Homo sapiens: one gene and its partners. The protein of the gene in region 2 purifies or fractionates together with the protein of the main gene of each other region. This does not show direct contact. Each region holds a gene or a part of one and is shown on either strand. Other genes may lie near its edges.

The links.
Region 1: the proteins of ZNF609 (region 2) and KANSL3 purify together in Homo sapiens (affinity purification with mass spectrometry, with the first as the bait; one large-scale study listed by BioGRID). This does not show direct contact.
Region 3: the proteins of ZNF609 (region 2) and RFPL4B purify together in Homo sapiens (co-immunoprecipitation; one large-scale study listed by IntAct). This does not show direct contact.

Annotation. Positions count from the first base shown.
Region 1 is NC_000002.12:96,631,689-96,635,338, forward strand, and holds part of KANSL3 (KAT8 regulatory NSL complex subunit 3), read right to left. Parts: intron 1-3,650. UniProt on the Homo sapiens protein: Non-catalytic component of the NSL histone acetyltransferase complex, a multiprotein complex that mediates histone H4 acetylation at 'Lys-5'- and 'Lys-8' (H4K5ac and H4K8ac) at transcription start sites and promotes transcription initiation.
Region 2 is NC_000015.10:64,673,566-64,677,215, forward strand, and holds part of ZNF609 (zinc finger protein 609), read left to right. Parts: intron 1-350; coding exon 351-2,691; intron 2,692-3,650. UniProt on the Homo sapiens protein: Transcription factor, which activates RAG1, and possibly RAG2, transcription. Through the regulation of RAG1/2 expression, may regulate thymocyte maturation.
Region 3 is NC_000006.12:112,346,035-112,350,175, reverse strand, and holds the start of RFPL4B (ret finger protein-like 4B), read right to left. Parts: upstream 2,847-4,141; 5' UTR 2,769-2,846; intron 984-2,768; 5' UTR 855-983; intron 573-854; 5' UTR 468-572; coding exon 1-467.

The DNA of each region.
Region 1 (3,650 bases), on a different chromosome or scaffold from region 2:
AAGAACACAAAGTCATTTTTTCAATGAGTCTATATAAAAAATGATAAACATCTATTTTTTTTTTAAGATAAATATGGGCCAGGTGCACTGGCTCACACCTGTAATACCACCACTTTGGGAAGCCGAGGCAGGTGGATTGCTTGAACTCAGGAGTTCAAGACCAGCCTGGGCAACATGAGGAAACCCTGTCTCTACCAAAAATACAAAAATTAGCTGGGCATGTGGCACACACCTGTGATCCCAGCTACTAAGGAGGCTAAGGTGGGAGGACTGCTGGAACCCGGGAAGTCAAGGCTGCAGTGAGCCATGATTGCATCACTGCACTCCAGCCTGGGTGACAGAGCAAGACCTGGTCTCAAAAATAAATAAATAAATGACAAATACAGCCAGACACAGTGATTCACACCTGTAATCCCAGCACTTGGGAGGCTGAAGCAGGAGGATCACTTAAGCCCAGGAGTGAGCTGGTCTCAAAAAATAAATAAATAAATGACAAATATAGCCAGGCACAGTGATTCATACTTGTAATCCCAGTACTTTGGAAGGCTGAAGGAGGATTGTTTAAGCCCAGAAGTTCAAGACCAGTTTGGCAATATGGCAAAACCCCGTCTCTAAAACAAACACAAAAATTAGCCAGGCATGGTGGTATGCGCCTGCAGTCCCAGAAACTGAAGTGGGAGGATGGCTTGCTTGAGCCCAGGAGGTTGAGGCTACAGTCAGCTCTGATCATGCCACTGCACTCCAGTCTGGGTGACACGGCAAGACCCAGTCTCAAAAAAAAGGACAATATATTCCATAAGCAAGTTGATTTGGCTCAAGCTAATATTTTTAAAAGATCACTTTCAATTTTTGTTTAGTAGGCTACAGCTCAGGAGTGGAATTTAGAAGACCAGCTAGGCAGCCACTGCAGTTGACTGAGATGGGCCAGAAATCATGAGAGCTCGTTTAGGGACAAGAACAGTACAAATGGAGAAAAGTGGCTAACAAGTTGATTGCCTAGATACTGTTCAATACAGTAGGTATAAGCCACACACGACTACTTAAATTGAGGCAGGTGGATCACGAGGTCAGATCGAGACTATCCTGGCTAACATGGAGAAACCCCGTCTCTACTAAAAATACAAAAATTTAGCCAGCCATGGTAGCAGGCATCTGTAGTCCCAGCTACTCAGGACACTGAGGAAGGAGAACGGTGTGAACCCAGGAGGCGGAGCTTGCAGTGAGCCGAGATTGCGCCACTGCACTCCAGACTGGGAGACAGAGCGAGACTCCATCTCAAAAAAAAAAAAAAAAAAAAAATTACTGGGCACAAGGGCTCACAAGGGCTCAGGCTTGTAATCCCAGCACTTTGGGAGGCCAAGGTGGGCAGAACACTTGAGCCCACAAGTTCAACAGTGTGGGCAACATGGTGAAACCCCGTCTCTACTGAAAATACAGAAATTAGCTTGTGGTCCCAGCTACATGGGAGGCTGAGGTGGGAGATCAACTGAGCCTGGGAGGCGGACGTTGCAGTGAGCCAAAATTGCACCACTGTACTTCAGTCTGGGTGACAGAGACCTCGGCCCAAAAAAAAAAAATTTAAATAGAATTAAATATTCAGGCTGGGCGTAGTGGCTCGCGCCTGTAAACCCAACATTTTGGGAGGCCAAGGCGGGTGGATCACCTTAGGTCACGAGTTCGAGACCAGCTTGGCCAACATGGTAAAACCCCATCTCTACTTAAAAAAAACAAAAATTAGGGTGTGGTGGCACGTGCCTGTAGTCCCAGCTACTCAGGAGGCTGAGGCAGGAGAATGGCGTGAACCCGGGAGACGGAGGTTGCAGTGAGCCGAGATCACACCACTGCACCCCAGCCTGGGCAACAGAGCGAGACTCTGTCTCAAAAAAAAAAAAAAAGGCCGGACATGGTGGCTCATGCCGGTAATCCCAGCACTCTGGGAGGCAGAGGCATGCGGATTGCCTGAGCTCAGGAGTTTGCAACCAGCCTGGGCAACATGGTGAAACCTCGTCTCTACTAAACACAAAAAATTAGCTGGGTGTGGCAGCGTGCACCTATAGTCCCAGCTACTTGGGAGACTGCAGCAGGAGAATTGCTTGAATCCGGGAGGCGGAGGTTACCATGAGCCAAGATTGCACCACTGCACTCCAGCCTGGGTGACAGAGCAAGACTCCGTCTCAAAAAAATAAAAAAATAAAAAATTCAGTTCCGTAGTGACGTTAGCCACATTTCAAGCATTCAACAGATACACGTGGCGGCAGTTACCACACTGGACATCCCAGGTATAGAACATTCCTATTATTACAGAGAGTTCTGTTAAACAGTGCTGGTCTAGAGTTTTAAATTCATACAAACTTTCCCTTTCATTAGCAAGTCAACTGGTAGTTATTTAATATATACTGTAAAGTCTATGATTTCCTTTCTGTATGATTATCTAAGACAGATGACCTGGAATGCACATACCTTAGCTACTTAGCTCATTTTGTACAGAGCCTAGAACAGAAACAAATATAAATGAACATCTAAAGGTCTTTCATATTTTAAAATGAGATCTAGCTGGGCATAGTGGCTCACGCCTGTAATCCCAGCACTTTGGGAGGCCGAGGCAGGTGGATTGCTTAAAGTCATGAGTTCAAGACGAGCCTGACCAACATGGTGAAACTCCGTCTCTACTAAAAATATTAGCCAGGCATGGTGGCGGGTGCCTATAATCCCAGCTACTTGGGAGGCTGAGGCAGGAGAATTGCTTGAACCCAGGAGGCAGAGGTTGCAGTGAGCCAAGATTGCGCCATTGCGCTCCAGCCTGGGCAACAGAGACTCCGTCTCAAAAAAAAAAAAAAAGAAAGTAAGAAACAAATCCTAGTGCCCCAAGGGTCCTTCCCCACTTTATGATACATTGCACCAACTTTGTCACCCCAAATACTATGCCAAACAAACTGGTCTAGTGGCTACCTGCCAAACTTTATGTTAACTTTTTGACTTCAGTGACCTTACTGCATCCATTTCCAATGACTGAAATAATTACATCATTATGAAATGAAATGAAATCATGTGCAGCTAGATTTGGTGGTGGGCAAAAGAGCTGATTATCTTCTCCAGGCCAGACATTGAGCTAGTACTTGGATATGTGTAGCTAAAAGAGAACTCTTGATTTCACCATCACAAACCTATCCTCCTCCAGTCTTCCCTAACTCATGGCACCACCCAACTGCTCAAGCCAGAAATCTGTCATCCTAATTTTACCTTTCCCTTTAACCCTGGTTCTTGCTCTTCCTTCCAATTCACCATAGCAGATCCTATTAACCTATTCACTCTACCTATGAAATACATCTCAAAGTCATCTATATTTCTCCATTTGTACTGTTCCTGCCCTATACAAGATATCACGATTTCTGGCCCATCTCAGTCCATTGCAGTGGCAGCCTGCAGCTGGTCTTGTAAGTTCTACTCCTGCACTATAATATACTCAACAAAAAATCCAAAATGATCTTTTTAAAGTATAAATTGAATCTCTAGTTTAAGATCCTTCAGTGACTTCTTACCACTCTTAGAATCAAATTCCTTCACGAGGTAACCCTTGCCAACTTCTCCCTACCTCCCACTTATACCCCTACTGCTATTATATTCTGGCCACACTGGCCTAAAAGAGTTCT
Region 2 (3,650 bases):
GATGTTACCTTGGACAAGTCATTTAGCATGCCTGGCCTCAATTTCCTGTATGATCTCTAACATCTTTTCTGAAACCATGACTATGGCTGTATATAGGAAATGTTGACTTGACTATCTTACGGAACAGATTCTGCATGGTTTTAGAGGTAAATGTTTGGGAATAATTTGCAGCTAACGTGTATCCCAGGAGTTCACCATTTAGTGCAATTCACAATCAGAATTTCTTTTAACAAATCATATTCATTGAAAATGATAGTCACCATCTGGACAGTTCTGGAGGCTACAGCTAAACTGCTTTGAAGATGTTTTCTCTTCTTAATAATATTCTGTTGTGTTTATCCTTTGCCAAGGTTCTGTGACTCCCCGACCAGTGACCTGGAAATGCGCAATGGCCGGGGTAGAGGCAAACGCATGCGTCCCAACAGTAATACACCTGTCAATGAGACAGCCACAGCCTCTGACAGCAAAGGGACCAGTAACAGCAGCAAAACCCGGGCAGGAGCCAATAGCAAAGGCCGTCGGGGCAGCCAGAATTCTTCAGAGCACCGCCCACCTGCCAGCAGCACTTCTGAGGATGTCAAGGCCAGCCCTTCCTCAGCTAATAAGCGGAAAAACAAACCCCTTTCAGACATGGAGCTGAATTCTAGCTCAGAGGACTCCAAAGGGAGCAAGCGTGTCCGTACTAATTCCATGGGCTCAGCCACTGGCCCCCTTCCTGGGACAAAGGTAGAACCCACTGTTCTGGACAGAAACTGCCCCTCCCCCGTCCTAATTGACTGTCCCCACCCAAACTGCAACAAGAAGTACAAGCACATCAATGGACTTAAGTACCACCAAGCTCATGCCCATACAGATGATGACAGCAAGCCGGAAGCGGATGGGGACAGTGAGTACGGAGAGGAACCTATTCTCCATGCAGATCTTGGGAGCTGCAACGGTGCATCTGTCTCACAAAAAGGTTCCTTGTCCCCTGCCCGCTCAGCTACCCCCAAAGTTCGACTTGTAGAGCCCCATAGCCCTTCTCCTTCAAGCAAATTCAGCACAAAAGGCCTCTGTAAGAAAAAGTTGAGTGGGGAAGGGGACACAGACCTTGGGGCCTTATCCAATGATGGCTCTGATGATGGACCCTCAGTGATGGATGAAACAAGCAATGATGCCTTTGATTCTTTAGAAAGGAAGTGTATGGAAAAAGAAAAATGTAAAAAACCCTCTAGTTTAAAACCTGAAAAGATTCCTTCCAAGAGCCTAAAGTCAGCCCGTCCCATTGCCCCTGCCATCCCCCCACAGCAAATCTACACCTTCCAGACAGCCACCTTCACAGCAGCGAGCCCAGGCTCTTCCTCAGGCTTGACCGCCACAGTGGCACAAGCCATGCCCAACAGTCCCCAACTCAAGCCCATTCAGCCCAAGCCCACTGTTATGGGAGAACCTTTCACAGTCAACCCTGCCTTGACTCCAGCCAAGGACAAGAAAAAGAAAGACAAAAAAAAGAAGGAATCTTCAAAGGAACTTGAAAGTCCTCTGACCCCTGGGAAGGTGTGTCGAGCAGAGGAAGGCAAAAGCCCATTCAGGGAATCTTCAGGAGATGGGATGAAAATGGAGGGGCTCCTAAATGGCTCATCAGACCCCCACCAAAGCCGACTGGCTAGCATCAAGGCTGAAGCCGACAAGATCTACAGTTTCACGGACAATGCCCCCAGCCCTTCCATTGGAGGCAGTAGCCGCCTTGAAAACACTACCCCTACTCAGCCCCTGACTCCCTTACATGTGGTGACCCAGAATGGAGCTGAAGCCAGCTCAGTCAAAACCAACAGCCCTGCATACTCTGACATCTCTGATGCTGGGGAGGATGGGGAGGGCAAGGTAGACAGTGTCAAATCAAAGGACGCCGAACAGTTGGTTAAAGAAGGGGCTAAGAAAACTCTTTTTCCCCCTCAGCCTCAGAGCAAAGACTCACCATATTACCAAGGCTTTGAGAGTTACTATTCTCCAAGTTATGCACAGTCCAGCCCTGGGGCTCTGAACCCCAGCAGCCAGGCAGGAGTGGAGAGCCAGGCCCTGAAGACAAAAAGGGATGAGGAACCTGAGAGCATAGAAGGGAAAGTGAAGAACGATATCTGTGAAGAAAAGAAGCCCGAGCTGAGCAGTTCCAGTCAGCAGCCCTCGGTCATCCAGCAGCGTCCCAATATGTACATGCAGTCCCTGTACTACAACCAGTATGCCTATGTACCCCCCTATGGCTACAGCGACCAGAGTTACCACACCCACCTTCTGAGCACTAACACGGCTTACCGGCAGCAGTACGAAGAACAGCAGAAACGCCAGAGCTTAGAGCAGCAGCAGCGGGGAGTGGACAAGAAGGCAGAGATGGGCCTGAAGGAGCGGGAGGCAGCACTCAAGGAAGAGTGGAAGCAAAAGCCGTCAATTCCACCAACTCTCACCAAGGCCCCCAGCCTGACAGACCTGGTGAAATCAGGACCTGGCAAGGCCAAGGAGCCAGGGGCTGACCCAGCCAAATCAGTCATCATTCCCAAGTTAGATGACTCTTCAAAACTCCCGGGCCAGGCCCCTGAAGGCCTTAAAGTGAAGCTGAGTGATGCCAGCCACCTAAGCAAGGAGGCCTCTGAGGCCAAGACAGGTGCTGAGTGTGGTCGACAGGCAGAGATGGATCCAATACTCTGGTACCGACAGGTAACTGTTGCCCTGGGAGGAAGTGGAAATACCGTATGGTAATCGTCTATCTTCCTCACAAATAAGGGCTGTCCTTATACAGGGGTTCAACGGAATTGAGATTAGCAGGAGAGATGTATAATTTTAAGGATTCTTTACCTTTGTAAACTATTTTAATGTTTTTTATTTTATTTTAGTATTATTATTTTTTTTGAGATGGAGTCTCACTCTGTTGCCCAGGCTAGAGTGCAGTGGTGCAATCTTGGCTCACTACAACCTCCGCCTCCCAGGTTCAAGCAATTCTCCTGCCTCAGCCTCCCGAGTAGCTGAGATTACAGGCACACGCCACCATGCCCAGCTAATTTTTTTTGTATTTTTAGTAGAGATGGGGCTTCACCATCTTGGTCAGGCTGGTCTGGAACTCCTGACCTCAAGTAATCCACCTGCCTCAGCCTCCCAGAGTGCTGGGATTACAGGCATGAGCCACTGCACCCAGCCAATTTTTATTTTATTTTATTTATTTATTTATTTATTTTGAGATGGAGTCTGGCACTGTCACCCAGGCTGGAATGCACTGGCGCAATCTCAGCTCACTGCAACCTCTGCCTCCCAGGTTCACACGATTCTCCTGCCTCAGCCTCCCGAGTAGCTGGGATTACAGGTGCACGCCACCACACCTGGCTAATTTTTTGTATTTTTAGTAGAGACGGGGTTTCACCATGTTAGCCAGGATGGTCTTGATCTCCTGACCTTGTGATCCACCCACCTCGGCCTCCCAAAGTACCTGGATTAAGGCGTGAGCCACTGCGCCCAGTCGTAATTTTTTTTATTTTTATGTTTTTATAGAGACCAGAGTCCCTCTGTGTTGCCCAGGCTGGAATGCAATGATGCAGTCATAGCTCACTGCAATTTCCAACTCCTAGGCTCAAGCAGTCCTCCTGCCTCAGCCTCCCAATTAACCAGGACTACAGATGCATGCC
Region 3 (4,141 bases), on a different chromosome or scaffold from region 2:
TTCACCTCTCCCACTTCAACCTCCCAGTAATGTTGGCCGGAGGAGAAGCAGGGAGTACCCAGGACACAGGCCAGCCTGGGATCTTTTGTCAGATCGTGGTGGATCTTCTTACACTGAGCGCTTCTTAGATCATTGGAGAAGACAAGGAGGGAGCTGGCAGTGGCTGCATCCAGGGTCACATCCTCCCGAAAATGCCGGAGCTCCTCCCTCACGTGCAGACTTTGCTCAAGTCGGCTATTGTGCTGCTTGGTCATAAGTGTTAGGACGCTCACTTGCCATTCTTCCAAAGCAGGTACCTTCACCACGTCTCGACACAAGGGGCACATCGCTCTAAAATCATGGTTTTCTAGTATATACCTCTGGATGCAATCAAAGCAGAACACGTGTGTACAAGAGAGAGAAATGGAACAGGAGAAAAAATCCAGGCAAACTGGACAGGACAACTCTGCTTGCAGGCGTTTGGCCATGGTTCTTAAGGGTTACTCCTTAGCCGTGAAGTAAACTGAAGTGATCCTTTATTGGCTTCTGGAAGCACTTGGGAGCCCTCAGTACACAATCCACTCTTCAATAGTCTAAATCCAAGATTAAATAATATAAATTAATAAATAAGTTATTGGCATACATAAATGAATTATATTATTTAATAAATAATAATAAATTTATTAACTAAGAAATTAAGAATAACAAAAAAATAATATTTCTGCAGTTTGTGTATGAAAGTGACACTAAATTGCTAGAGAATCACAGTAATGTAGTCATGGTGATAAAAATGATTTCGAAACTCTTCAAACTCTAGATAATCACAAGACAGAAATAGGACAGTGGAAACTTTCTTTTCAGACAGTGCAGCTTACCTAGTCTGAAGACTTCCAGGTGATGTGTTGGCTGCTCCGGCCAAAGTTTCTCCTAATGGGGGCTGAATTCAAGTGGGTCTTTAACAGAATCTCAGTATAGTCTCCACTCAGTATTTCTTTGTAGATCCTCTGCAGTTCAGGAAAAAGAATGTTCATGTCTAAATTCAATAATGAAAATAAAGCCAATTCTACATTAATCATCACAGAAAAGTGACTCTAAGGAATCCTCAGAATTTCCAGGAAAATTACCACATGTGAGTAAAGCCAGCAAAATCCACTGCAAAATGAGAAGCCCATAAAAGAATCAAGTTTAAGGACAAAGTGTTATTAGATGAAATGCTTTAAAGCACTCTAAGAAAACTAATTAAGGCTTGAATTAATGTGAATAAAAATATAATAGTCATCAACTTCTCCAAAATAATCATGCCTGAATACAAACCAAAAAGATGTTCCAGACAAGGAAGATGCCCTCCTGTTACCCCAACTGCTCCCAAAGCTTGAGAGCCTCTGGTGCTCCCAGAGGACTTCCCACCATGGCTATTATTCTTTGAGTGAGCTGTCTCTGACATGCTGGGCACAGCATATTGGACCAGGCTAGACCCATGACCCAAAGACAGCCTCGCAAAGCTGGACAGCACCTTTGAGATTATGTGAACAGAGGACTGTTCTCCAATAAGAGCCTGCACTGAGCAGTAACTAGCAGAACTCCTTACCAAGAACCCACAAATCACACATTCAGTGGTGACAGTAGTAACAGAATGAGGGACAGAAAGAGGAGCAGCATCAACATTACCAGAGAGAGGAAGTGATGAACACCGATGAGGCCAGCCTAAGACTGAGTTACTAGAACTGTCCTACATCCCAGAACACATTCTCTAATCTCTTTCCAACAAATACTTATTGAGCCCCTTCTGTGCTCTTGGCCTCAACTGGACTCTGGAAACACAAACGTGTGTAATAAACAGGGTATCTGCCCACATAAAACTTTGTCTTCCAAGTCCTGATCAGCATTCCAATCTCATGGTGCCTGGCTGGCGGACAACCAGAGATTACCTCTTTCTTAAATTCTGTTATCTTTTTCAATTTAATGGGAAATTTAACATGGTGCTGGAAATCTAATTGCCTAACCCACCTTGGAATGTATCTAAGAAAACAATTTTACAAAAGAAAAAAAATGCTACACTTATTCACAAGTTGTTCATTTCAGTGTTAACTACCATCCCAAATGATCAGGAACAATCGAATTATCTAACAATAATAAAATGATTCAGCTAATTATGACACAACTACTAAAAGTGGCCAAGTATATTTAAGTGAAAACCCGAAGTGAAGTCTTTTTTTTTTTTTGAGACGGAGTCTTGCTCTGTCGCCCAGGCTGGGGGTGCAGTGGCTCCATCTCGGCTCACTGCAACCTCTGCCTCCCGGGTTCAAGCAATTCTCCTGCCTCGGTCTCCTGAGTAGCTGGGATTACAAGCATGTGCCACCACGTCCGGCTAAGTTTTGTATTTTTAGTAGAGACGGGGTTTCACCATGTTGGACAGGCTGGTCTCTTGACCTCGTGATCCACCCACCTCAGCCTCCCAAAGCGCAGGCGCGAACCATGGCGCCCGGCCGAAAACCCAGAAATCTTTTAAGAAATGTTGGAAAATAAAAAGAAACCATTTTAAAACCATTTAAATCCATTGTAGTTGAAAACACATAAAAATACAAGTTCATGCAAAGAGTGACCTGAGGTTCATATGTAAAAATTTAAATGGCAAAGTTATAGTTAAAGGTGAAGAAAGCTCCCTGGCACAGGAAAAAACTAGTTCTTTCTCCTCTAAAATAAATAGTTAAAGGCATTCGAAAACACCAGTTTGTAGCCAAAGACAGAATAGGACATTGGAAATAGCTTAAACAGAAGGTATAACTTACCTTGACTTGGAGACTTCCAGCAGAATTCTAAAAGATCCGAAGCCTACGTCTCTACCTCTACAGACCTCTGCTCCTCTCGGAGTTTCCGCGGAGAGACACCAGCGTTTTTATACTGCCTGGAAAACATTGTCCAACCAATCAGAGTCAGAGGCTCCGCCCCAAAGGTTGTACCACTCTAATCTGAGTAAACTCATCAACCCACCCTTCCGTTTATGATGATGACATTAAAGCAGGCTTCAAATTATATAGTAAAAAAATTCAAAATTTCTTAATAACTCCCTGAATTAGAGTGAATCTACTGCCATCTGCTCTTGTCTCTAATTTCAGAACTCAACTTTAAAAAGCAAAATGTGTTGGAGATCAAATACAGAAATGCACTGCTGAAACCTAATCACCTCGTGGCTAATGTAATCATTGGTGTTCCTATTCCTGATAGAATCATGAGCGGACAGGATCTACAACAGTTTTCATGTCCTTTGACTCAACAATTCTACTCTTAGGGGTACTTACTGGACAGGATAAGAAAGATGGCAGCTAGGCAAGGCTATTGTCCTGTAATTATTAATAATTCCATTTTTTACTCTCAAAAGTGTTCTTGGATGAACGGTAAATTTTATGGTGTCTGTATCGAGAGCAGAAGGAGCAGTAAAAGTCACAACAGAGGAAAGCTAAGACACAAACTTCCAAAAAAGGATTTGGAGGGTGAATGAAGTCCCATTGTAGAGAGGATCGCTGGAATATACGTTTTCCCCAAGAGAGGCTGCATTCTAAATAACCTCTCCTTTCTCAGGCTTCCTGTTCTGCAAGGCCCAACACACAGCTTACACAGCTTTTACTTCATTTTTACCTGGTGCTATCTCCTTTTCTGTGAGTTAAATACTTGCAGGAGCAGGTCTCAAGCGTTGCTGGGGTTTTTTTTTGTTTTGATTTTTGACACAATCTTGCTCTGTCTCCCAGGTTGGAGTGCAGTGGCTCAGTCTCGGCTCATTGCAACCTCCACCTCCCAGGTTCAAGTGATTCTTGTGCCTCAGCCTCCCTAGTAGCTGGGATTACAGGAGGCCAAGGTGGGCAGATCACATAAGTTTAGGAGCTCAAACTTTTTAAATTGTAATCTCAAGACCCTTTAAACTTGAGATTTTAATCTCAAGAATCCTTACACTCTCTTTTTTAATTATTCAAAAATGTCATTTTATTTTTTCTTTCATTTTATTTTGAAATAATTTTAGACACAGAAAATTTGTAGGAATAGTAAAAAGAGATATATTCTTTACCCAGATTTACTATTTGTTTTTTAATTGTCTGATGTATGTATACACTGTGAACTGATTAAATCAAGCCAATTAACATATCTGTCACTTCACATACTTATCATT